Linked DNA regions of Homo sapiens. The protein of the gene in region 7 purifies or fractionates together with the protein of the main gene of each other region. This does not show direct contact. Each region holds a gene or a part of one and is shown on either strand. Other genes may lie near its edges.

What was found.
Region 1: the proteins of PRMT8 (region 7) and INA purify together in Homo sapiens (affinity purification with mass spectrometry; 3 studies listed by BioGRID and IntAct, with this or other methods). This does not show direct contact.
Region 2: the proteins of PRMT8 (region 7) and FAM120A purify together in Homo sapiens (affinity purification with mass spectrometry; 3 studies listed by BioGRID and IntAct, with this or other methods). This does not show direct contact.
Region 3: the proteins of PRMT8 (region 7) and LSM14A purify together in Homo sapiens (affinity purification with mass spectrometry; 4 studies listed by BioGRID and IntAct, with this or other methods). This does not show direct contact.
Region 4: the proteins of PRMT8 (region 7) and FBXW11 purify together in Homo sapiens (affinity purification with mass spectrometry; 3 studies listed by BioGRID and IntAct, with this or other methods). This does not show direct contact.
Region 5: the proteins of PRMT8 (region 7) and DHX9 purify together in Homo sapiens (affinity purification with mass spectrometry; 3 studies listed by BioGRID and IntAct, with this or other methods). This does not show direct contact.
Region 6: the proteins of PRMT8 (region 7) and LRRC45 purify together in Homo sapiens (co-immunoprecipitation; 2 studies listed by BioGRID and IntAct, with this or other methods). This does not show direct contact.

The regions. Positions count from the first base shown.
Region 1 is NC_000010.11:103,275,822-103,279,937, forward strand, and holds the start of INA (alpha-internexin), read left to right. Parts: upstream 1-1,316; 5' UTR 1,317-1,390; coding exon 1,391-2,455; intron 2,456-4,116. UniProt on the Homo sapiens protein: Class-IV neuronal intermediate filament that is able to self-assemble. It is involved in the morphogenesis of neurons.
Region 2 is NC_000009.12:93,458,185-93,461,684, forward strand, and holds part of FAM120A (constitutive coactivator of PPAR-gamma-like protein 1), read left to right. Parts: intron 1-3,500. UniProt on the Homo sapiens protein: Component of the oxidative stress-induced survival signaling. May regulate the activation of SRC family protein kinases. May act as a scaffolding protein enabling SRC family protein kinases to phosphorylate and activate PI3-kinase.
Region 3 is NC_000019.10:34,179,004-34,182,503, forward strand, and holds part of LSM14A (protein LSM14 homolog A), read left to right. Parts: intron 1-3,500. UniProt on the Homo sapiens protein: Essential for formation of P-bodies, cytoplasmic structures that provide storage sites for translationally inactive mRNAs and protect them from degradation. Acts as a repressor of mRNA translation. May play a role in mitotic spindle assembly.
Region 4 is NC_000005.10:171,861,049-171,863,638, forward strand, and holds the end of FBXW11 (F-box/WD repeat-containing protein 11), read right to left. Parts: 3' UTR 501-2,590; downstream 1-500.
Region 5 is NC_000001.11:182,856,347-182,859,846, forward strand, and holds part of DHX9 (ATP-dependent RNA helicase A), read left to right. Parts: intron 1-185; coding exon 186-232; intron 233-1,757; coding exon 1,758-1,894; intron 1,895-2,204; coding exon 2,205-2,294; intron 2,295-2,386; coding exon 2,387-2,548; intron 2,549-2,693; coding exon 2,694-2,771; intron 2,772-3,500. UniProt on the Homo sapiens protein: Multifunctional ATP-dependent nucleic acid helicase that unwinds DNA and RNA in a 3' to 5' direction and that plays important roles in many processes, such as DNA replication, transcriptional activation, post-transcriptional RNA regulation, mRNA translation and RNA-mediated gene silencing.
Region 6 is NC_000017.11:82,026,305-82,028,977, forward strand, and holds part of LRRC45 (leucine-rich repeat-containing protein 45), read left to right. Parts: intron 1-594; coding exon 595-707; intron 708-1,081; coding exon 1,082-1,140; intron 1,141-1,369; coding exon 1,370-1,447; intron 1,448-1,706; coding exon 1,707-1,842; intron 1,843-1,929; coding exon 1,930-2,007; intron 2,008-2,092; coding exon 2,093-2,204; intron 2,205-2,308; coding exon 2,309-2,379; intron 2,380-2,673. UniProt on the Homo sapiens protein: Component of the proteinaceous fiber-like linker between two centrioles, required for centrosome cohesion.
Region 7 is NC_000012.12:3,564,203-3,567,702, reverse strand, and holds part of PRMT8 (protein arginine N-methyltransferase 8), read right to left. Parts: intron 1-3,500. UniProt on the Homo sapiens protein: S-adenosyl-L-methionine-dependent and membrane-associated arginine methyltransferase that can both catalyze the formation of omega-N monomethylarginine (MMA) and asymmetrical dimethylarginine (aDMA) in proteins such as NIFK, myelin basic protein, histone H4, H2A and H2A/H2B dimer.

The DNA.
Region 1 (4,116 bases), on a different chromosome or scaffold from region 7:
CTTGCAAGTGGGTACATATTACAGACGCCACACTGACCCCTCCCAGCCTTCATCTTTTCAGATTCCATTCTTTGATTCTCACCCCCTGCCCCACCAACCCTACCATGTGGCAGAAGAGGCCGGCTCAGTCACCAGCACTCTCCCCCACTCCTGGAGTTTAATCTTTTTGCAGGGATCTCTTTTCTCCAAAAAGAGATCTGCACAGGGAGTGGCTCTCTGAAGCCAGTTGAGAACCTGCCCTGCTGGATTTACACAAACTGAAATCTCAAATGCCCACAGGGTCAGAGAGGTAAAGTAAATGAATTAAGAAGGGGGGCGTAATTCAGTGGAGAATGGCAGGGACTGTAGTGAACAGGAGAGCACACTTCTTATACAAATGGCAAGGGCAACTCACCTCTGCCACTGTGGGCATCCCAGCTCTTCCCATTTTCAGAAGAAGCCAGAAATCCAATTTCTTTACAGGTGAAATCTCCTGGTTTAAAAATGCTCCTTTCGAAATATTTTAAAATATAATGCTCTAAACACAAAAGTCTGCAGCCCCCTTTCCAGCAGCTTGTGGTCCTGGCCTGTGCCATGCTTTAGTGCCCTAACGATGAGCCCCAGCAATTCCCAGCGCCTCCTGCTTCTCCAAGTCTGGCCTCTTTTCCCCTCTGTACCGCCGCTTCTCCCCACTCTCCGCAGCTCGGGGTCACTTTCTTTACTGATCTCCCCTCTCTTCTGGGAGAGGCACTTGCTGAACATCTTTCCGCCCGGAGCCTCCCCAGGAGCTGCAGAGGGGCAGCTGGAGAGATGCTTTCTGACGTAGCATCTCCCACCTTTCTCCTTGGGGACCCTGAGGAAGGGGACAAGGGCTCGCTCTGCAGGTCCTCACTGTAACTGGAAAAACACGACCTCGCCCTCGGGAAGGCTTTCTGTGCGCCTCACCTCAGGATGAGGGTGGGTGTAGGGGACACCTCCCAGAAACCCCTAACCTCCCAGTCGGTTAAAGAAGAGGGGATAGGGTCAAGGGATGCGACAGAGCTGTGTGGTTTCCGGATGGGAAACCTCAGTCGTTTAGGCACCCCTCCGCTCGAGTCACTTCCGAAGCAGTCGATTCTTGGGGAGAAGCGCTGCGGAAAGGGGCGACTCCGATGCAGATGGCCCTGTCCCGGCGCCCCAGGTCGTCGCGCGCGCAGCTGCGGTAGTCACTGCGCCTCCCCGCCCCCACTCCTGGATGCCCCCCTTCCCTCTCCCGGCCAGACTCTGAGCAGGAGCTCCGCCCCCAGCGCGCCGCCCCAGCCCCGGCGCCTTAAAAGCCGGGCGCACCGCCCCGCCGCGCCCTGCCTGCCGCACCTCTCCTTTCTTCTGTAGCTCGCGTTGAAGCCGCACGTCCGGCCCCGATCCCGGCACCATGAGCTTCGGCTCGGAGCACTACCTGTGCTCCTCCTCCTCCTACCGCAAGGTGTTCGGGGATGGCTCTCGCCTGTCCGCCCGCCTCTCTGGGGCCGGCGGCGCGGGCGGCTTCCGCTCGCAGTCGCTGTCCCGCAGCAATGTGGCCTCCTCGGCCGCCTGCTCCTCGGCCTCGTCGCTCGGCCTCGGCCTGGCCTATCGCCGGCCGCCGGCGTCCGACGGGCTGGACCTGAGCCAGGCGGCGGCGCGCACCAACGAGTACAAGATCATCCGCACCAACGAGAAGGAGCAGCTGCAGGGCCTCAACGACCGCTTCGCCGTGTTCATCGAGAAGGTGCATCAGCTGGAGACGCAGAACCGCGCGTTGGAGGCCGAGCTGGCCGCGCTGCGACAGCGCCACGCTGAGCCGTCGCGCGTCGGCGAGCTCTTCCAGCGCGAGCTGCGCGACCTGCGCGCGCAGCTGGAGGAGGCCAGCTCGGCTCGCTCGCAGGCCCTGCTGGAGCGCGACGGGCTGGCGGAGGAGGTGCAGCGGCTGCGGGCGCGCTGCGAGGAGGAGAGCCGCGGACGCGAAGGCGCCGAGCGCGCCCTGAAGGCGCAGCAGCGCGACGTGGACGGCGCCACGCTGGCCCGCCTGGACCTGGAGAAGAAGGTGGAGTCGCTGCTGGACGAGCTGGCCTTCGTACGCCAGGTGCACGACGAGGAGGTAGCCGAGCTGCTGGCCACGCTGCAGGCGTCGTCGCAGGCCGCGGCCGAGGTGGACGTGACTGTGGCTAAACCAGACCTGACCTCGGCTCTGAGGGAGATCCGCGCCCAGTATGAGTCCCTGGCCGCTAAGAACCTGCAGTCCGCGGAAGAATGGTACAAGTCCAAGTTTGCCAACCTGAACGAGCAGGCGGCGCGCAGCACCGAGGCCATCCGGGCCAGCCGCGAGGAGATCCACGAGTATCGGCGCCAGCTGCAGGCGCGCACCATCGAGATCGAGGGCCTGCGCGGGGCCAACGAGTCCTTGGAGAGGCAGATCCTGGAGCTGGAGGAGCGGCACAGTGCCGAGGTAGCTGGCTACCAGGTAAGGGCCGGGGCTGGGCGTGGGGAGGGGTGCCCTGCCCTCTTCCGCGCGTACCCTCTTCCTCTGGTAAAACTGGGCCCCAGGACTTAAGGGGAGGGCAAAAGAGAGGAGAGAAGAGCCGCGGCTGGAGGCGCTGGTTAACAAAAAACCCTGGAGTCTTTAATGTTAATTTTAGGGAACGCCCCTCATTTATGTCCCTGCCCCAGCCCTTCAAACAAAGAAGCCCTTAAATTTATTTGAGGTTCGAAAACCCAACTCTGCCTGTCTGTCAGCAAGCGGGCCTACACACACCGGCGACCCGGAGAACAGTGCCCCACCCAAAGTAAGACTGAGCCCAACGGGGCAGGTTACGTGGGCGGTGCTGTCTCGGCTATCTGGCTTGTTTGGTTGACTTTGAAAAGCTTTCTGTGCGCCCTAGAAGTTATTTATGGAGTATGGTCTGCTTCAGGGCTGAAGGAAGAATGCGATCCTGAACTGGGAAGAGTCCTATCCCATTTTCTTGACTTTCGCGCTCCAAAAAGTAGAGATTGGGAGCCAACAAGCTGAGCGATGCTTGAGCTAGTAGTAACCACCCTGCTCTACCCACCTCCCCAACACACACACACACACGATTCCCTTGTCCACCAGCACACACACACACACACACACACACACACACGATTCCCTTGTCCACCAGCTGACATTTCCTCCTTAAGAAAGCGTTCGCCGGTTGGCAAAACGTGAAAGGTCGGGGCGCTGTCCACGGTGCTGATCTCGAGTTCTTCCCATCTCAGAAATTATGTCTCTCCTGTCTCGTGTCCCAGTTATGAATCTCTAGGCAATTAACTGCTTTGATTTTTTTTTTCCTGCAACACCAACACATCAGTCTTGGCTACCTGCAATCAAAGGTCACCTCATAGACAACATCAGTTTTGGCTTTCATGGATGGCTTAGCACTAAACAAAAAACACTTAATTTGCTCAGCAGCTGTGAGGTCCCACTTGAAAATTCCTGTTTTGTTAGTATTTTTTTCATTGTAAGTGCATGTGATAAGTCACAGAGATGGTTTTTCTTTGTTCTAGTGTATGTATTTTTTCCATATTTCCCTGTCCTCTAAGCTCCTGTGATGGTATTGATTGGCTATTTCTTCCCAACAAAGGCCACTGTGTCTTCAGTTTTACTATATAAGAAATTCTGGGATTATGACCGCAAATGGCACAGAGGCAGGGGACAGGGTAAATGGAAGGTGTAGAAAAGAATTGGAATAGTGTGGTTCGGTTTCAAGGTACAATAAAAGCTCCTTTGAATAGAATGACTATAATTCAGAAACTTGCAATAATTCTAGCTAGGATTAAAGTTTACATTTGGTGAGATTAATAGGGCTTGGAACATTGGTAAAATAGAACCAAGAAAGGAATGAAATCTCAAAAGTAACATTTTAATCAGAAGCTAAAGAATTCTTATTGATGTGCAGGTATTTGCTGTTTGTTACAATAACTTCCTTTGATAAAGGAAAAAAGCCTGCTTGGACTGTTTAGGTTAGTTTGGTATTGCATTATCATTCAAATAAGTACTTCCATTTCTGCCTCAAAATCCATAACTTGAACTTTTCATTATGTACCCTAACCCCTGGATGGCCTGAATTAATCACATTTGGCTAATTGAGACTTCATTTTTTTCTT
Region 2 (3,500 bases), on a different chromosome or scaffold from region 7:
GTGAATTTCTAATTGCACTTTAGATACTCCAGAGCTTGGACCGTATAATTAGTGAGAAAAGTGACCCCACCTTTAACACTTCTGAACGCTGTGTCCCTGTCACTCCTTGCCGCTCCCACCGTCTGTCCCCTGCTTGCCTTCCGCCATTTCTCTTTTCCCATTCTGTTGGCTTCCTTTTTAGCTGTAACTAGCTTGAACTTCATGATCATTCACTTCAGAGTTACACCCTCTACCACCATAGAGTCATGCTTGGTATTCCAGCATCCCATCCTCCCAGTCCCTAGAATAATGACACACCAGGCCAATTCTGGCTCAGTAGTCTCCTACTTAACTGTTATACTCTTCCTTTTTTCCAGTACCCCCAACATTTGAATTCACCATATTTATCCAAAAGGTCGAAGAAATGCTTTGCAAACCCTTCAGTGGGTTGTGAAACCAAATTATTGGATGTTTGCCATTACTTAAAAATAACGGAGTAAAATAGAATGAAAAATAGAATGCAAGGCATATACTATAGGTAAATTCCATGTCATTACACTTTTGTATTACTGTGGGTAGCAGTAAGAATGGCCTCTGCACCTACCCCCGCGCCCCAGTGGAACTAATCTTGCACAGCTTTGGCAGGGTAGACGGCCACATCTTCAGGGAGGTCACTCTCCTGTTGGGACTTGAACAAAACCATTAAGTCCAAATTCCTTATTCAGACTTGTAGACCTTCCTGCGACCTGAACTCATTTGACCTTACTTAATGTTTCACAATCCCTCTACTGTACTTTTTAAAATGTTCCCAACCCAACTGGTCACTATTTCCCCAAGAAATATCCAGTTTCTGCTTATGTCATTCCCTCTTGTTTAACTACTGTACTGTGTCCTACTTTTGCTCATCAAAATTTTACTTACACTTCAAAGCCCATGTCAAATGCCAGCCTTCTTCATGGAATCTCTTGATATTTGAAAAAGTGGACTGGGAATACACACACAGCATGGTGTATGTTTGCAGTGGACATTCTAGTCTGTTGTATTGCACCTACCTGCATAACTGCATATTTACCTCCCCCAGCCACCCGTAGGCTCCTTGAGGCCAGGGACTGTTTTACTCCTCTTGTACCCCATTATGCTTAGCATAGGCACTCAACTCTAATCAGAATATTTGCTGCATTCCATTATATAGCCAGACAAATTAAATTATTTCAAAATCTGGATCAATGGCCATTACTTAAGTTTTGTTTTGTTTTTTTAATCTTAAATTTCTCATACTCTCTTTTCTGACTGGTTCCCAATGGTGATTGATTCTCCTTTCAGCAAATGTTTGAGCACCTGTTAATGCCCAGGCCTGGAGGAGTGAACAGAACAGGAAAGGAAGGAAACCTTCAGGGAGCCTATAGCCTCTGGGTTGAGGAGGTTCATTTAAATCCTTTTTTTCTTGTTTGGAACTTTCTTTAATACTGTAGAACAATATGTTTACTCAGTGAAGACCTGTGAGTGGCTCTCAAGTAGGGTTGACAGTTGAGACATTTGGCAGGGGACATTTGGCAGTGCCTGGAGGCATTTTTGGTTGTCACAGCTGGGGGAGGATGTTAACTGAAGGCATCTATTGGGTGGAGGCCAAGGATGCTGCCAAACATTCTACAGTGCACAGAACAGCCCCCATAGCAAAGAATAATGTGGCCTAAAATACCAGTAGTGCCAAGGTAAGGAAATCTTGGTATGAGCAAATCAAAGAATTATAAGCTTTATGCCTTTGTAAAGTCATATAAATGTTTGCGATAGAGATGTCCAAGTACACCAGGAAGAAAGTAATCAAAACTACAACTTAATTTTCTGAATCAAAATACACGCAGGTATACTTCCTCCTATGTCTAACATGTTTAGATCGACATTGTTCTTCATTTTAGTTTTCTGAAATTTATATGAATAGGAAGAAACTAATTAACACATATTACACATTCCAACCTTAATAAGCACTACACCATAGGAATAAATGTCAAATATCGCGTAACATGAAGAAGAGAGATTTTAGGATTTGAAAACTTAGACTACTTTCCAGTAGATTTATAGGCAGAATTTTCTAAATAAAACAGGCATTTAAATGAATCACAGTTCAGATAAAAATATTCTTAAATTATCTAAATGTCTCCATATAGTTCATCGTTTATTTCCTTTTCGCTTTTTTTTGAGATGAAGTCTCACTCTGTTGCCCAACCTGGAGTGCAGTGACACAATCTCAGCTGACTGCAACCTCCACCTCCCAGGTTCAAGTGATTGTCCTGCCTCAGCCTCCCAAGTAGCTGGGATTACAGGCACGCCATGCCCAGCTAATTTTTGTATTTTTAGTAGAGACAGGGTTTCACTATGTTGGCCAGGCTGGTCTCGGACTCCTGACCTCGTGATCCACCCGCCCTGGCCTCCCAAAGTGCTGGGATTACAGGCATTAGCCACTATGCCTGGCCCTATTTTTGCTTATTTTTATGTTTTCTCTAGAAGTAAATCTGATGAAGACCTTGCCTGTTATCCAGCTCTTAGAGCGATGCTTGGTGTGTAGTACATGCTCAGAAAATATTTGATAAATGGATATGAATCACCAGTTACAGGCAAGGAAGTGTGATGGCAGAAAGATGGTAGGAAGCAGAAGTTTTAAAGTCCCCCTAGAGTTAATTCCAAAATCACTGGTGTCAGCTTGGCCACCTGGTGCAGAGCTTTTATCTTTGAGTAAACCTTTTATGCTTCTTAACTTAGGAGATGTGTTGAGGGCATAAAATGGGTGACTGCTTCAGGAAATGGGCTGCATTTAGCCACCTTTCCTCTTGTTACACCTGGCTTTATCACACATTGTTTCTAGGCATCTTAGGGGACAGTGTAAAAGAGTTGAACTTGACCCACTGCAGTATTTGTAGAGGTGATGGTCAATCTGCATTATGGAGTTTAGGATCTGTGATTTAGAAACGGTACTTTTATGCGCCAGTCATTTGGCATTTCTCAGTTGTCTCTGGAATCAATTAACTTTCTTGAAAGGATGAATTTACCATGTTGGTGTTTTACTGGTTAGTGCAGGAAAGTATACTAGAGGGTTTATTGCTGGAGGGTTGACTTCACAGGTCTGAAGTACATCATTCATCCTCTGAGGTAGAGCACATTTATGAATAGTAGTAACAAGCCAGCCCAGACTGTTGGAGGGGGTCACTAGACTCCATGGATGAGGTGTTTTAATTTCCTGGACCTATGAAGAGTTTGCAAGTGTTACTATCTTGAAATAAATAGTATCAACCTGTGGTTCTTTTTCCTAAATTATGAAAATTGAAATTTTATGTTTTAGATTTTGGAATGGTATTTTAATAAGAATGATATTACTAGGATTTAGCTGAGTCATTAGATTACTAGAGTAGGCTAAATAGATTCTGAATACAAATAATGTGTGTGTTTCTTCCTTTTATCATTGTATTTTTTTATTTTTAAAGTTTGTAAAGTTTAATTTGCATTTCTTTTATGACATCACTCCTTTA
Region 3 (3,500 bases), on a different chromosome or scaffold from region 7:
TATAAGTGAGTAGGATGCCTAAATAGGCTAAAATGAATGAAATTCTTATAAAAAATAAATTCTTACATTTAGTTAGCTTACCTGGATAATCATTCAAATGGAAACCAGGTTGCTACTGCACTGGGAAAAGAGACTTTATGAAGAACGATTATATAAGCCACTTGCCTTTAAAATAAGTTGTTCTTAAAATCAAGAGATTGGTGGAAGAATAGAAAAACAAGTAAATTGTTAACAGATTTCTTTAATCATCTGCTAAGTCTGGCTCATTGGCATAATTTATCTACTTCTTGATGTTAGTCACATAGTCATAAACTATTACCTTATTGGAGAGAGTGGAAGAGCTTTGTGTGATGGATAAAATACTTGCGGGGTGCTTTATTTGATTTCTTGCATTACTTGGGGATCTAAATCTAGCAATTCACAAAATTACTATCTAAAATGACAAAGATCTAGTGAAACTTCAAGCCACAGTTTCTTTTTGTTGCCCTATTTAGTGATGTTGCCAGTACTTGGAGCCTTGGAAACAGTTTATTATTGTTACATAGTCCGCAGAAATACTTGGTAATTCTGGGAGTCTGAAGTCAGGTGCCAGAAACTGTTCATTTTCTAGTAGGGGTAAGTAAGGTAAGCCATGATTTTCTAAGTCGGAAGTAAAGAAAACAGCATAAAACTGAAGAAAAAAAATAGTAGAAGGAAGGAAGTAGGAAGAAAAAAGAAATCTTATCTGTGCATGATACATAGCAGGAGTTTTGTATTTAACTCAGTGCCACAGTAATAATAGCAGTAACTACAGATAGTTTAACTTGAATTTAATTATTCCGTGCTAGAAGATGCTTGCTATAGAAACAATTTGTCTTTCTCTCATGATGCTATAAAATAATATATTAATTAGCTGTTTTAAAAACTAGATACCATTGAAGTAAATTTTGTTGTTGTTGTTTTGAGACAAGAGTCTCACTCTGTTGCCCAGGCTGGAGTGCAGTGGCACGATCACAGCCTTGACCTCCCTGGGCTCAGGTAATCCTCCTGCCTCAGCCTCCCAAGTAGCTGGGACCACAGGCACACACCACCACACCCAGCTAATTTTCTGTTTTTTGTAGATACAGGGTTTTGCCATGCTGCCCAGGTCGGTCTCTAACTCCTGGGCTCAAGTGATCTGCCTGCCTTGGCCTCCCAAAGTGCTGGGATTACAGGTGTGAGCCACAGTGTCTGGCTTGAAGTAAGTTTTTTAGTGGACAAAGTGTGAGTTGGTCTGTAAAATAATTTATTCCCAAGGGCCTTATTCTAGTTTTGTAGGGTTTTTTGTTTGTTTGTTTTTTTCTGGAAGAAAATGCGACCCAAAATGCCAGTTGGAATACTTAGCAGCTTTTTGGTCTTGGACAAGTTATTTAACCTTAGCTTTAACTTCTTCATCTTTTCAATAGGGATGGATAATAATGCCCATCTTTCAGAGTCATTCTGATAATTAAATGAGGTGATATAAAAGAAGTAACTAGTTTAATGTTGGTGCTTAATAGAGAATAGCTGTCCCATGTTATTTCCCACCACGATCTCCCTCTCTGTCTAGGTGCTCAGTCTCTCTAGTAGCCCAACTCAGTCAGTCATTCACACCTACTGTAGTCTACTGTCATCTTACTGCCTTTCACTGTCCTCTCATTCCCCTCATAACTTTACTTCCTTCTTTATCCTGCTTCAACTCCATGAGCAACCACGACAGTCAGTACACATTCCCTCAGCCCCCACCCCATTCCCCTCTTGCTGTCTTATACAAGAAATCACAACCCTGATTATATCAACACAGATGTGCTGACCAGCCTCACTCTAAATTTATGTTCGCTAGCCTCCGCAGTCATGGTCACTTCCTAGCAGTCACACTATACTTCCATAATCCATTTCACTTTTCTACATGGCTATTCCATTCATTTTCCTCAAGCCTCCAACACCTCCCCCATATTCACTTTCAGCCCCTTAACCGTGCTTTCTATAGCAGTTAACTGAGAAAAGAACAGCAAACGAAAGATAATTTTGATAAACTTACCCCTCACATACCCAGTTACCTGCATCTGTTCCCCAGACTTCTATGTTTTTTTCTGATCAATATGGATAAACTGTTCTTATTTCTGTCTAAGACCACCCTTCCACTTGTGCAGCATTTGTCCCCTCTTGGTGATTCAAGAACATTGCTCCAGCAGTTCTCTACTCTCCTCAGTTTTTCCTTCCCTAACGTATCTTTCTGTCTGCTTACAGATAGGCAGTTATTTCTTCTACCTTAAGAACAACCAAAAAACCCCACTGTACTTGAACTGAATTTCCTCTTTTCTAATGATTACCCCATTTCTATCCTTCCCTTTATAGCGAAACCCCTTGAAGAAGTTGTCTACACCACTGGTGTTCATTCATTTTTGAGCCCTGTTTACTAAGGTTTTTATTCCTACATATGAAGTTTTCTTATCAAAATTACCAAAGATTTCCATGTTACCAAATCCAGTAGTTAGTTCTTAGTCTCATTCTACTTCACCAGTCAGCATTACGTGGTACAGTTAGTCTGTTCTCTGTGAAGCATTTTCTTAACTTGATCGTATGCCATTTTTTTCCTCATATCTCACTGGTTACCTCTCAATCTCCTTGGCTGATTGAACCTGTAAGCCGCCAAATGTTGGGAGAGCTCCAGGGCTCAGTTATCTCCCCTTTTCTCTCTGTCTGTTAACATTTATTTAATCATCTGCATTCTTTTGATGATCTCATCCATCTAGTTCCTGGTTTCAAATACTACCTGTATATCACTGACTCCTATCTCTAGCCTGAATTTCTCCTCTGAACTCCTGACTTGTATATCCATTGCCTCTTTAACATCTCTACTTGTAGGGAAGTCTGCTAGAATCTCAATTCAGCATGCTCCAAACCTGTTCCTCCATCAGCCTTCCCCATCTAATCAAATGACAGCTCTATTCTAGTTGGTAAGACCAAAACACCTTGGAGCCATCCTTAATTCCTCTCTCTCTGTCTCACCTCATGTGATCCGAACCTATCAGCTCTGCTTTCAAACTAGATGCAGAATTTGACCTCTGACCACCCCTACTACCCTGGTCCATTATCTCTCACTAGTCTATTCAGAGATACTCAGATTCCTGTTTCTTGTTTCCAATATTGACCTCTCAGTTGATTCTTTCTCCTCCTCCCAATTTTACTTGAGTGAATCTTTGTAATTAAAAAATAAAATATATGGGAAATGTAGGTGACAAATTTTCTTAGTGAACCTATGTTTTCTTGTGCTTGACTGGTTGGTTGGCTATGTATTTCCAAATTAAGAGTCTTTTTTCTGTGGAACTTTGAAGTTACTGCTTTTTGTTCTTCTAATATTCTGGGGTTGCTGATGCCAGTCTGACTCTCAGTCACTTTTCTCTCTGGAAGCTTTTATTTAGAATTCTCTATTCCTGGAATTCACAAATGTGATCACACTGGTTTGTTGTTGTTTGTTTGTTTTTTGGTTTGGTTTGATT
Region 4 (2,590 bases), on a different chromosome or scaffold from region 7:
ATTTCTGAGTAGAATCCTACAGATACTAACTCGACTTTTTCTGCTTCAATACTCTACCAGTGACACACTTGCACACACAAAACTATTCATTTCTGATGCTATGGTGGAGAGGGCTGCGAAACTGCCCCTCACACCTCCATGGCCCTTCTTCAAGAAGGGGAGGATCCACTCACACCTGAAAGCCACTTGGGATGTCTCAGAGGCCATTTTCATGTTGACAGTAACTTGTGAAGCAATTAATTATGTGTGGGAAGCAGATTTGCAGGGCAAGAGTTCTTAGCTAGCCCTCAGCTAACTCCTGAAGTTCAAGCTAGCTTTCGGCAAAAGCCCAAGACAAGGAATCATATCATCTACTACAACATTCTCACACGCCAAAACCAGTTTGCCTTCAAACTCATTTTACAGAACAGATGATTCTAAAGATCTATAAATTTTAATTGTATGTCACTGAATTCCTAACAGCACTTAACAGTTTCTTTGAAAAATTTCTTAACAGAACGTCAGAGTATTGCAACACTTTATTAAGAGTATTGGCTTTGAATCAGTAGCTGAAGTAACAATTGCATGAAGCCAGATTAGGTGCACTGCATAATACCCATACTCGATTTATTGACATTACTTAGCAATTTACTGGACAAAAGTCAAACTTTTTTGTTTTTTATTAAGCACATTCCACAGTACAAAGCTGTCATGAATAATATCTGTACAATTTAACAGTTTCAATAGCTGTTCAGACACAAATTTATTTCAAACAGATAATTGGCAAACATAATTAATTACAAGTTAGAATTAGACTATCCCAGTGCTTTAAAACATTAATATAGCAGTAATTTACATTTGCTCAGTTATGGTTAGCAAAATAAAGTCCAGAGTATGGCTGGGAATTACTATTATAATCCCAGAAAGTCAGAACTCCTTGGGTGCCAAAGTCCCCTGCTATAATTTAGTAGGCACAATTCAAAGGTTGTCTGCATATTCAAAGGCCATCATCTCCCAAGGAACGAGGGGAACTTCTATATTAAACATGCAAAAACAACAAAAAATCCATTCATTCATTCAGAATTGCCTCCTCCCCTGCCCCCTCCCTTCCCCCTGGGCTTTCCTAACCAGTTTGATATTGAAGCTGTAGGATGAAAAGTGGTCAAAGCTAAATCACTTTCACAACCACCATCAAGCTTACAACATCCACCTTATGAATGGAGGTTTATTGTTTACACTTTGAGACTCAACCTCTCAAAAACATAAATTAATTTAGTAACATGGGAAGGAAGGATTTTATTTTTAAAAGAAAAACTAAAAAAGCAAAGCCAACTCAATAAACAAATCACATACACACACACTGATCCCCACACCGTTCTCAATGCAAAGGACAAATCAGAGCCCAGGGCCTTCCCTTTAGTAGTAGAGTGTGCTTCCACGGGAAGAGGTTTACTTTATAGGAGGCTGTTTATTGGTCCTTTAAAATGTTATTGACATTCCTTGATCTTTGGAAACAATGGCGAAGGGCAAATCAAACCTAATATTGAATAAGGGAGAAGGAGTGCCAATTGGATGCCAACGTCCTTTCCATGCACTGTCAGGGCAACAGTGCCATTTACACATTTGGGCTGTGTCGTAGGGAGGACTTGGGAGCTTTGAGAACCTGCTGGGGCCACAGCAGCAGCTGACACCAGAGATGACTGGGGTGGCATTCATGGGCTTGAGGCTTCACTCCACTTCAGAGCACCCACCCCTCAGCATGGGCCTCTGAACCAGCCTGACCTGCCCTGCAGGCTCCAACACACCAGCAGGCCCTGCCAGAACCTTGGCAAGGCCAGGATGCATGAATTCCAGAGCCAAGACAGCCCGTCAACAGGGCCTTCTTATTTCCCCTTCCCAGGGCCACGACTGCACAGAATAATGATTTTTGACAGCGAAGCCAAATGAATACTATGGGAGGTGACCACTTGTACTCAGGAGTACTTATGAGAAAAAGAATAAGAACAAAAAATGTTTAAGGTACCTCTCTATTGTATAATATATACTCCACAACAAATAAAACATTTTGGTGTTAAACCTTAGAAATTACATTTTAAAACAAGATTCTCATTAAAAACACACACAAACCACACACACGCAATGACAACAACAAAATAAAAACACTGTATGAATACTGCAGGAAGGGTTCTAGGTAATCCACATCAACCCAGGTATCAGGTTCTTGAGCCCAGCCCATGGCTAAGTGCGAACACACTCTGTATTAGTGTCTCAAGCACAGGGGGCCCTGACTCCAGCAACTTTGAGGTTAAACTGTTATGTACATTATATCTACATGCGAATACAGTATTTTAAATTAGGAGGCAAGCACACGTATAAAGGTGTTACTCTACCAAATATCAGGAGATGGTTGGGGGACAGAGAACAGTTAATAAAAGAAAGAGCTATATTACCTGTTGGTAGATAATATAACTGACTTATAGTTCTTTAAATTAAAAGAAATTGGTACAGAAAGGAAGTATAATCCCAAAAATATTACTAAAACAATCCAGAGAAAATTTTCCACTGTCCAACATGTTCCTAATACAACAAGTCAGAATTCATAATGACTTGG
Region 5 (3,500 bases), on a different chromosome or scaffold from region 7:
CATGTTGTATATTATTTGAAGTTTATATACTTCATTTGTTCTAGGGTTGGGCAGAAATAAATGTTGGTAATTTTTTTTTTCTGTGATTTGCCTAAGCAGTTGGAAAGCCTGCCTGACTTGGGAGACCTGGATTTGCTGGTTTCTAACAGTGAAATTTCTAACCTTGCTTGTATATGTTGTTACAGGAGCTTTATTGCAGAAATGACCATTTATATCAAGCAGCTGGGCAGAAGTAAGTGTTACTGTTTCCCCAATATTCCAAGTCTCTGTATAGAGAAGGAATCTTCACATTTTAAGTCTTGAGTCACGTATACAGAAGCTGTATTATTTGAAAGAGCACATAATGTAAGATAGCATCTAGGGTATATTTTAGAATATTAGTAATTATATAAATTAGAGGCAAAGTCTCCCAGTTTGCATGTGAAAACAGACCATGTTAGTGTAATCTTTCAAAGGTAAGACACAGTGGGATGATTAGGAGTCTGCCAGTGTCAATTAATTTTAAACCTTTTTTGTTTTTTGAGACGGAGTCTTGCTCTGTCGCCCAGGCTGGAGTGCAGTGGTGTGATCTCGGCTCACTGCAAGCTCCGCCTCCCAGGTTCACGCCATTCTCCTGCCTCAGCCTCCCCAGTAGCTGGGACTACAGGTGCTGCCACCAAGCCCGGCTGATTATTTTTTGTTTTTAGTGGAGACGGGGTTTCACCATGTTAGCAGATGGTCTCTATCTCCTGACCTAGTGATCTGCCTGGCTCAGCCTCCCAAAGTGCTGGGATTACAGGCGTGAGCCACTGTGCCTGGTCTTAAACATTTTTTCATTTTTATATATACAATGAGTTATTTTGAGTGGATGGATAATACTAAGGGAGAGAGGATAAAGGCAGGCTAACTTCTGTCAGCTCACTTACCTTATCGAGGTTAATTTGGCTAGTTAGGCAGAAAGATACCTTTGTACCCCTTTGCTTTATATTCATCTCTCCTAAGGATGAATGATACAGGAGGAGAGGAAACTTTCTGTTAATATTTTCTATAAGGATATGAGTAACTTAGCTTTAGTTTAATGCTAAGGTCAGCAAACTATAGCCCTCTGGCCAGATCCAGCGTACTGCCTGTTTTTATAAGAACTGTTTTATTGTAACATAGCTACACTCACATTTTAGACTTTACAGGTCACACATTGTTATTCTCATTTTATTTTTACAACTCTTGAAAAACGTAAAGCCATTCCCAGTCCTATGGTTTATCAAACTCTGTTGTCAGTGACTGCTTTCACACATTAAAGGCAGAGTTGAGTAGTTGTGACAAGATACTATATGGCCTGCAAAGCCTAAAATATTTATTAATTGACCGTTTATAGAAAAAGTTTCCCAAATCCTGGTCTAGGTAACCACTCTGGACCCAATTACTTTTACTGGTTTATTTTTTACTCTTTGTCTTTTCAAACTATGTTTTCTTCCCCATTTTAATGTCTGATATTAACAGTGACAACTTTGTTGAAATAGGTTATTTGCTTTCATAATATTGATTTGTATGAGTCCTAGTATCAGCCAGTAATCAAAACTGTTGGTTATTTAGTTGATAAGCTGTTTGGCAATTTCTTTTGTTTAGCAGATATTAATAGAATAAAAAGGAACTAGAAGCCATGGCATACCCTGTATTTTAGGGCTTCTTGTGTACGTAAGCCCATAGTTTCTTGTGATAAGATGTTTCTTTACTCAGATGATTTCTTTCTGTCTGATAATCCTGACCTTACATTATAGGGATTTTTGCACGAGAACATGGATCAAATAAGAAATTGGCAGCACAGTCCTGTGCCCTGTCACTTGTCAGACAACTGTACCATCTTGGAGTGGTTGAAGCTTACTCCGGACTTACAAAGAAGAAGGAAGGAGAGACAGTGAGTCTTTAGATTTAATAGACTTGTGAGATAGTGTGAGATTCAATTTAGCTCTTGTTTAGTGTTTGGCTGAAGAAGTTTAATTTTAAGAATCTTACCTCAGGAAATGAAAATGGCCCTGCTAATCATCTCTGTGTCTGGCATGATGTTCATAATAGGCAGTGAGTAAATAATCATTGAAGTAATTCTCTCACAAAAGGGAACTGACTATTGGTTTAGGAATATTGTAGACCTAGTGTTGACTGTATAGTCTTAGCCCCATTATAGTAGATTTGAGTAGTGTTGTTAATGTGTGATCCTTTTTCCATAGGTGGAGCCTTACAAAGTAAACCTCTCTCAAGATTTAGAGCATCAGCTGCAAAACATCATTCAAGAGCTAAATCTTGAGATTTTGCCCCCGGTAAGCATAAAGCTGTTTAGTTCACATTTACGTAGAACTCTCCGTAGACAAGCAAATCATATTTTTTGTTTGTTTTTCTTATTTTTTAATAGCCTGAAGATCCTTCTGTGCCAGTTGCACTCAACATTGGCAAATTGGCTCAGTTCGAACCATCTCAGCGACAAAACCAAGTGGGTGTGGTTCCTTGGTCACCTCCACAATCCAACTGGAATCCTTGGACTAGTAGCAACATTGATGAGGGGCCTCTGGCTTTTGTGAGTGCAATATTGTTTTTGAGATCAGAGTCTTGTGTTTTACTCTTGAGACTATATTTGATTAGTATGTCTAGGTAAAAAATGGATTTATTTTGAAGCTGAATTATGTGCTTTTGTTTGACTATGTTGGCTTTTTGTTTTACAGGCTACTCCAGAGCAAATAAGCATGGACCTCAAGAATGAATTGATGTACCAGTTGGAACAGGATCATGATTTGCAAGCAGTAAGTCTGAATTATTTAGACAAGTAGTGCTCAGAGCTTCAGAATGTTCTAGGTATGGGTAAAAAGTCAATGAGCAGTACATTTTGCCCTTTTAAGGAGGGCATATCAAAAGATATGTACCAAACTGCTAATCCTAGTTACCCCTGAAGTTAGTTGCTATGAGTTGAGGGCCTGTGAGAGAATTTCACTTCTTAATGTAATTTAATAAAAGTGGAGAGATTTAAGGCAGTGACTCCTTTTGTTGTTGGTTTTTTTGTTTGTTTTAGTGTTTTCCAAATAAAAAATTAAAATGTTAAAAAGAATGCGTGTGCGACTTTCAGGGACAATGAGAATTTAGTTTTTGGACAACATCAAAAGATACATTCTTCAGAAGTGTAGTGAAAAGAAGTAGTTCTATTAGAGATATAAATATACACATTCTTTTTTGAAAAAAACATTTTCATCACTAAGCCAATGGAAATGAGTAAGTTTTTATAGAGATGGAAGTTTGGTTTTTTTGTTTGTTTTTTTCTTGAGACAAAGTCTCGCTTAGTTGCCCAGGCTGGAGTACAGTGGCTCAGTCTCGGCTCACTGCACCCTCCGCCTCCTTGGTTCAAGCAATTCTCCTGCCTCAGCGTCCCAAGTAGGTGGGATTACAGGCACACCCCACCACACCTGGCTAATTTTTGTATTTTTAGTAGAGATGGGGTTTCACCATGTTGGCTAGGCTGGTCTCGAACTCCTCACCTC
Region 6 (2,673 bases), on a different chromosome or scaffold from region 7:
CCCTTGCCTTTTGCGGTGGAGCAGCTCCCACCACCTCTGCCCCACATGTGCACGCGCTCCCCAACACCAGGCGGCTCTTGCTCACAGCCCGAACCCCACAAAGCACTTCCACCCCCATGCACTGAGGGGGCACCCCTGACTTGCCGGGTGAGACGCTGCCCCACACGGCATAGATTCCCAAGCAGCCAGCCGCTGGGTGCAGGGCTGGTGGCCACCAGCTACTCCTGAGGCTAAGCAGCCCCGGGGTGACACAGCTCCTTTGTGTGTGTGTGTGTGTGTGTGTGTGTGTGTGTGTGACTGAGTTTCACTCAGTCACCCAGGCTGGAGTGCAGTGGCGCAATCTCGGCTCACTGCAACCTCCACCTCCCGGTTCAAGCGATTTTCCTGCCTCAGCCTCCCGAGTACCTGGGATTACAGGTGTGCGCTACCATGCCCAGCTACTTTTTTGTATTTTTAGTACAGATGGGGTTTCACCATGTTGGCCAGGCTGGTCTCGAACCCCTGACCTCAGGTGATCCACCCACCTCGACCTCCCAAAGTGCTGGGATTCCAGGCATGAGCCCCTGTGCCCAGCTGACACAGCTCCTTCTGCAGAGCAAGCCATGGGCCACAGCCAGGACCGGCTCACCACCTTCCAGGAGAACCAAGCCCGCACTCACGTCCTCAGCAAGGAGGTCCAGCACCTCCGGGAGGAGAAGTCCAAGCAGGTGAGGATGGCGCCTTCACTGACCTTGGAGCTGCTTATGGCTGGAGGGCCTGGCCACGTCCTTCCTCCCTCAGCCCCGTGGTCTGCCCATCTTCCCTTCCTCGGGGCCCTGGAGCCTCTCTGAGTGGCTGGTACCAGGAAGGAGGGGCGGCCTCCTGGTCTGATCTGCAGGTGGACTTCCTTGGGGAGCTGGCGTCTGAGCCCTGAGGCCTCGCTCTGCAGGGGCCACCCTTCCTGTGAAGGAGACAGGGCACCGTGGGTGGAACCCTCCGCTGCCTTGCCACATTGGTGGGCGCTGGCTCTCCTTCCCCCTGAGAAGGTCAGGTGGACAGGCTGCAGGTGCCCTGACAGGGCTGCGGCTGTCTCTGTCCCCAGTTCCTCGACTTGATGGAGACTATTGATAAGCAGCGAGAAGAGATGGCCAAGAGCAGCAGGTGAGCGGGCCCAGGGCAGGGGCAGGGTGAGGCTTCAGGGATCAGGTCCTGGCTCAGACTCAGATGGGACCAACCTGAGCCCACGAGTGAGGCCACGAGGAGGTCGCTGGAGGCTCAGTGCCCAGGCGACCATAGATGCTTAAGGAACAGCAGCAGCTACCGAGGCCAGAGGGGTATGGGAGCGCTCTGGGGTTTGGGTTACTCTCTGCACCCTCCTCTCTGCCCACAGGGCGTCGGCAGCCCGTGTAGGGCAGCTTCAGGAAGCCCTGAATGAGAGGCACTCCATCATCAACGCTCTCAAGGCCAAGTAAGTGGGGGGTGGCCTCAGGATACTTCAGAGACGTGCCCACAGGGCAGAGAAAGGTGGTGTGAACCTGTGTGCAAGTCCTGTTTGCAAAGCAGAGGTGGGAAATGGTGAGGCTGGGGCAGTAACCCAGAAGCCTTCCTGGAGGAGGCGGGTGCTGGCTGGGGTTGACTAGGTGCCCAGCAACAGTGAAAGCAGCGAGGCCTTTATAAGGCAAGTGAAACTCCAACCGGGGCGGGGGTGCTGCCCCTCCTTTCTGCAGGCTGCAGATGACAGAGGCCGCCCTGGCTCTGTCGGAGCAGAAGGCCCAGGACCTGGGGGAGCTCCTGGCCACAGCGGAGCAGGAGCAGCTGAGCCTGTCACAGAGGCAGGCCAAGGAGCTCAAGCTGGAGCAGCAGGTGGGTGGGCAGGGCTTGAGAGGGGTGGGCCAAGGGGTGCGTGGCGGCTTCGTGACCCTCACTACCCATACCCCGTTCCCCTCCCAGGAAGCTGCAGAGCGGGAGTCTAAACTCCTCAGAGACTTGTCTGCTGCCAATGAAAAGAACCTGCTTCTGCAAAACCAGGTAGCTGTGGTGGATGGAGCCAGGGAGCCCAGGGTGGGCGCGGCAGGGCTGGGCTGCAGCTTCCCTCCCTGGTGCCGGCTTTCAGGTAGACGAGTTGGAGCGGAAGTTCAGGTGTCAGCAGGAGCAGCTGTTCCAGACCAGGCAGGAGATGACCAGCATGTCAGCTGAGCTGAAGATGCGGGCCATCCAGGCCGAGGGTGGGCACGGGCAGGCCTGCTGTGGAGGGGCCTGGGGATGGGCACCGGGGGACGGGGGCCCCCAGGGGATGCTCACGCATACTCTGCCCACCCTGGGCTTCCAGAGCGCCTGGACATGGAGAAGAGAAGATGCAGACAGAGCCTGGAGGACTCCGAAAGCCTGCGCATCAAGGAGGTGCCCTCTTCGTTGGCCTCTAATGCGCCTCAGTCTCTGGTCTTGGTGTCACGCAGGTGTCCCCAAAGCACACACCTGGTGGGAGCTTCCCTTGCCAACCTTGGGTCACTGGGTGGCCGTATTTTGCCAGCCTGAGCGGATGTCAGACCCAGAACCTCCTATTGGGGGCGGCGGGGGGACCCCGGCAATGTCTGAGCCGTAGTACAGGCTGCCGTTGAAGAGACACCAAGGCCCACTCGTTCAGGGTGTGCATGCTGCGGTAGTTTCCTGCTAGGCCATCTGAGGCAGTGCTTT
Region 7 (3,500 bases):
CTTGGATTTTCAACTGTGTGGGGGATTGGCACCCCTAACCCCTGTGGTAGTCGGGGTCAACTGTTATTTTTGTTTACAACTAAGGAAACCGAGGCTTAGAGAGGTTGAGTAGCAGCAGTGGAAACAGAGCCCAGATCTGATATGACATGACTCTAAAACTCTTCTCAAGGCCCCCACCCCTATGTTAGGTTACCATGACAATTCAAACTCAAAGAAAGCATAGATGCCTCCTCTATTGCTTTTGCATTTGTTCACAGCCAGGCTCAATACCAAATGGGTGCCCTTCTAGTGTTTGTGAGGGAGGAAATTGATATTTTGATGAGAGCATGGGCTCTGCAGTCAGGGAAACCTAGGTTTAAGTGCCAGATCTTCTCACCATTAGCTGTACGACTTTAGACAAGTTACTTGACCTAACTAAACTCCAATTCCCAAGTGAACAACCATGAAAAGCAATATCAATTTAGAGGGTGATTGTATTGATCAAATGAAATAACACATGTGGAGTGCCAGGCCCATAGCTAAAGCTCAACAGAAGGTGGACATTATCTGACATATTCCTGCTTGTTGATCCACAGATGGAGAGGGGAAGCAGATAGGGCCAGGGTCAAAGCCCCTGTCCCCAGTGGCTTCTTCTTATGAGTCACCTTCAAGAACTTCAGTTTCCTCTGTGGGAGGAGACACTTCTTAGTTGAGTTTTTGATAAACTGACATAGACATACACATAATTTTGGAGTCCCTTTTTGTATTTGTTGCTGTAAAGATCTGAGCAAGCTAGTTTAGATACCACTGTTAAATTGGCAGGCTGATGTATTGGTTGGTTTGTTCTTTCTGAACATTTCCTTTGAAAGGTTACATATATTCATGCTCTGAAACTCTCATTCTGCAATATCCTCTGAAAAAAACTCACACAATGCCTGAGCTTTGCTGGGAAAAACAAACAATGGCCTGTACTTAGGAGTAAAAATCAAAAGAACCACATCTGCCTAGAATCTGAGTTTCATGAAAATTAATTTGGACTGAGGCTCCTGGATGGCAAAGAGCACACCGTTTGCTGGCTTTATTTAGTTTCTTCACAGTGAATAATGCAGGTGATGGAGTGTCCATTAGCAGCTTCTAATAACAGTTTACTCTCCACTATGTGGTATTTAATCAAGCTTTAATTGGATACAGCCTGCTCTACAAGGAGTAAGACACTTTGTACACATGCATTGACCCTGGTCACTCTACAGTGAGGTTCAGTCTTGGGTGGCCCTCCTGACTGGTTACTGCTCAAAAGCCCCTACCATTAAAAAGTATGAGCAGGAAGAGCTATTCTCCAAAAGTTTTGGTGGGAGTGGGAGGGGTAGGTGTTGAAGTTTCTCTGGGTCTCAGAGACCCCAGGGCAGGAACTCAACTGAGAGCAGGGCCCAGGGTGCACTAAGAAAATTCATAGAGTGGCAAAGTAAAGGATTTTTTAAAATGCAAACATTGTGCCTAATTTATTTCTTATTTTGAAAGAGAACTGACAAATATATGCATGACTCACCTGCCTAATCATTTGCATGCAAAGCCTGGCTTGCCTTAGTTTTGTAAACTTAAAAATTGTCTTTAATGGCCTCCCTTACTTTTTTTTCTTTGCACGTTTCTTGAAGGTTCTTCCCTAATGTCTGCCTGTGTCTGTGTGGCTATGGGTCAGTTCCTCCTCCTGCATTTATATCATGACCTCTCTGTAGCCCTAGAAGATGTTTTCTCCTGCCTCCGGGGCCTCATGACCTCTACCCTGAGTGTTTAGTACAAGGCTCCACCCATGACAATTTTTGTGGACAGGACTCTATTAGGAGCTGCAGGAAACAGACAAGGAGTAATCCATCATCAAGTCTAACAAACAGGTATGTATGAAATATTCCTCAGGTGTCCCCCAAAGAGAGTTACTGCTGCTCATGTTCTCTGTGTTAGCCCTCTTATCAATTAGTTGCTGTAACCTCATCAATATGGATTACAAGAGATGATTGATAGATAGACAGACGATATAGAAGACAGATAGATGATAGCTAGATATAGGGGGTCACAGAATAGCAAAAATCACAATCTCTGCTTGCAAAAAGGCAGAAGGAATCAGTTAACCCTATAAAATCCTCAACAGTCTGGACTTCTGTTCTCTTAACATCACCCTTCTACATCTATTCAAGTGCAGACATTTCTCAGTGTGGACATGGCCCCACAGTTGGCTTGGTGAGGAGATGAGCCCTTTGTCAAAGGAAAAGGACCCATCTCCCTTCAATCCAGTGCTGGACTGGCTTTTAGACTCCATTTATCCCCTTTCTCCGGTGCTTTTGTGCTCAACCTGCACAACTTTATGCTGGAATCCTAAAAGGCAGCAACTTACGCTCTTGTTCCAGGTGACAGCTAATCTCAATCAAACATCTCCTCTCTTTTATTTTCCTCATTAGGAAAAAAAAAAAGAAGGGAGGTTGAATCTGAAATTCTTTGCAGTGCCAGAAAGCTGCGGTTCTTCAAATGTGTACTGAGCACTTGTTATGTGTAAGGCATTCTGCAAGATTCACTGGTGGAGACAGCTGGCATCAATAAAAAAAGATGGTGCCTCCAAGTTCCAGTTTGACTGTCATTTTCAACACTTCCTGGGTCCTTTTATTTTTTATTTTTAAGAGGTCACATTCTTTCTGTGCAGCCAAATACAACTGTCCAGCTGAATCACCATGAATATTCTTCCTGCAGTCTGTAGTCACCACCAGCAACCACTTAAACTTCCAGATTCAATTTTCCAATCTACAAAATGCTACCTGTCATGGTGGGGCATATGCCAACTTACTAGGGGCTATTGGCCAACATAGGGCATTAGGCTGGCTCAAGGAAGTGTGTGGGCACACACAGCAGCAGTCTTCCCTTCTCCTCCATGCAAAGGATTTTCAAGGGGGTCTAAGCTATTGATATTAAGATTCCGAGCAGCCGTAGGCTGCAGAGCTCCATGCCCAATCTGGACCCCAAGTCACTAAAACTGCATCAACTCAAGGTTGCACTGAGGTCACCGTCCGGATCCATGTTTTTATTCCAGAAGGATGATGGAAAGTTTGTTCAACGAACTATGACAGGACTCTGGCTGGTAAATTACAGAATGATTAATCAGAACTAAATGCACAGCAGGGAGCAATAGACTCTAAATTGGGAAAACTTCTCCTGTAGCTTCAAGTTTGTAAGTGAGACATCCAGATTTTTAAAAATGGTTTTGAGTGGAATTTTTTCTTTTTGGTTTGAGTGGTTCTTACAGAAATCTAGTCATTCTCATTAATGGTCATTTTTGTTTTTAAACAAATCAGGCCAGCTCAACCTCATTTGAGCCTCCAGTGCATCCATCAGGGTCAGCTGATGCCCGTAGGATCTGAAGTTAGTGATCATTTTTAGGTCCTCACTCTTTCAGAGAGCAGGTCCTGTGCCACACAAGAGGAGGCATGAGGGTCACAGGCATGGGAACATATTATGAGCCTATGAAGCCCCCTGACCCC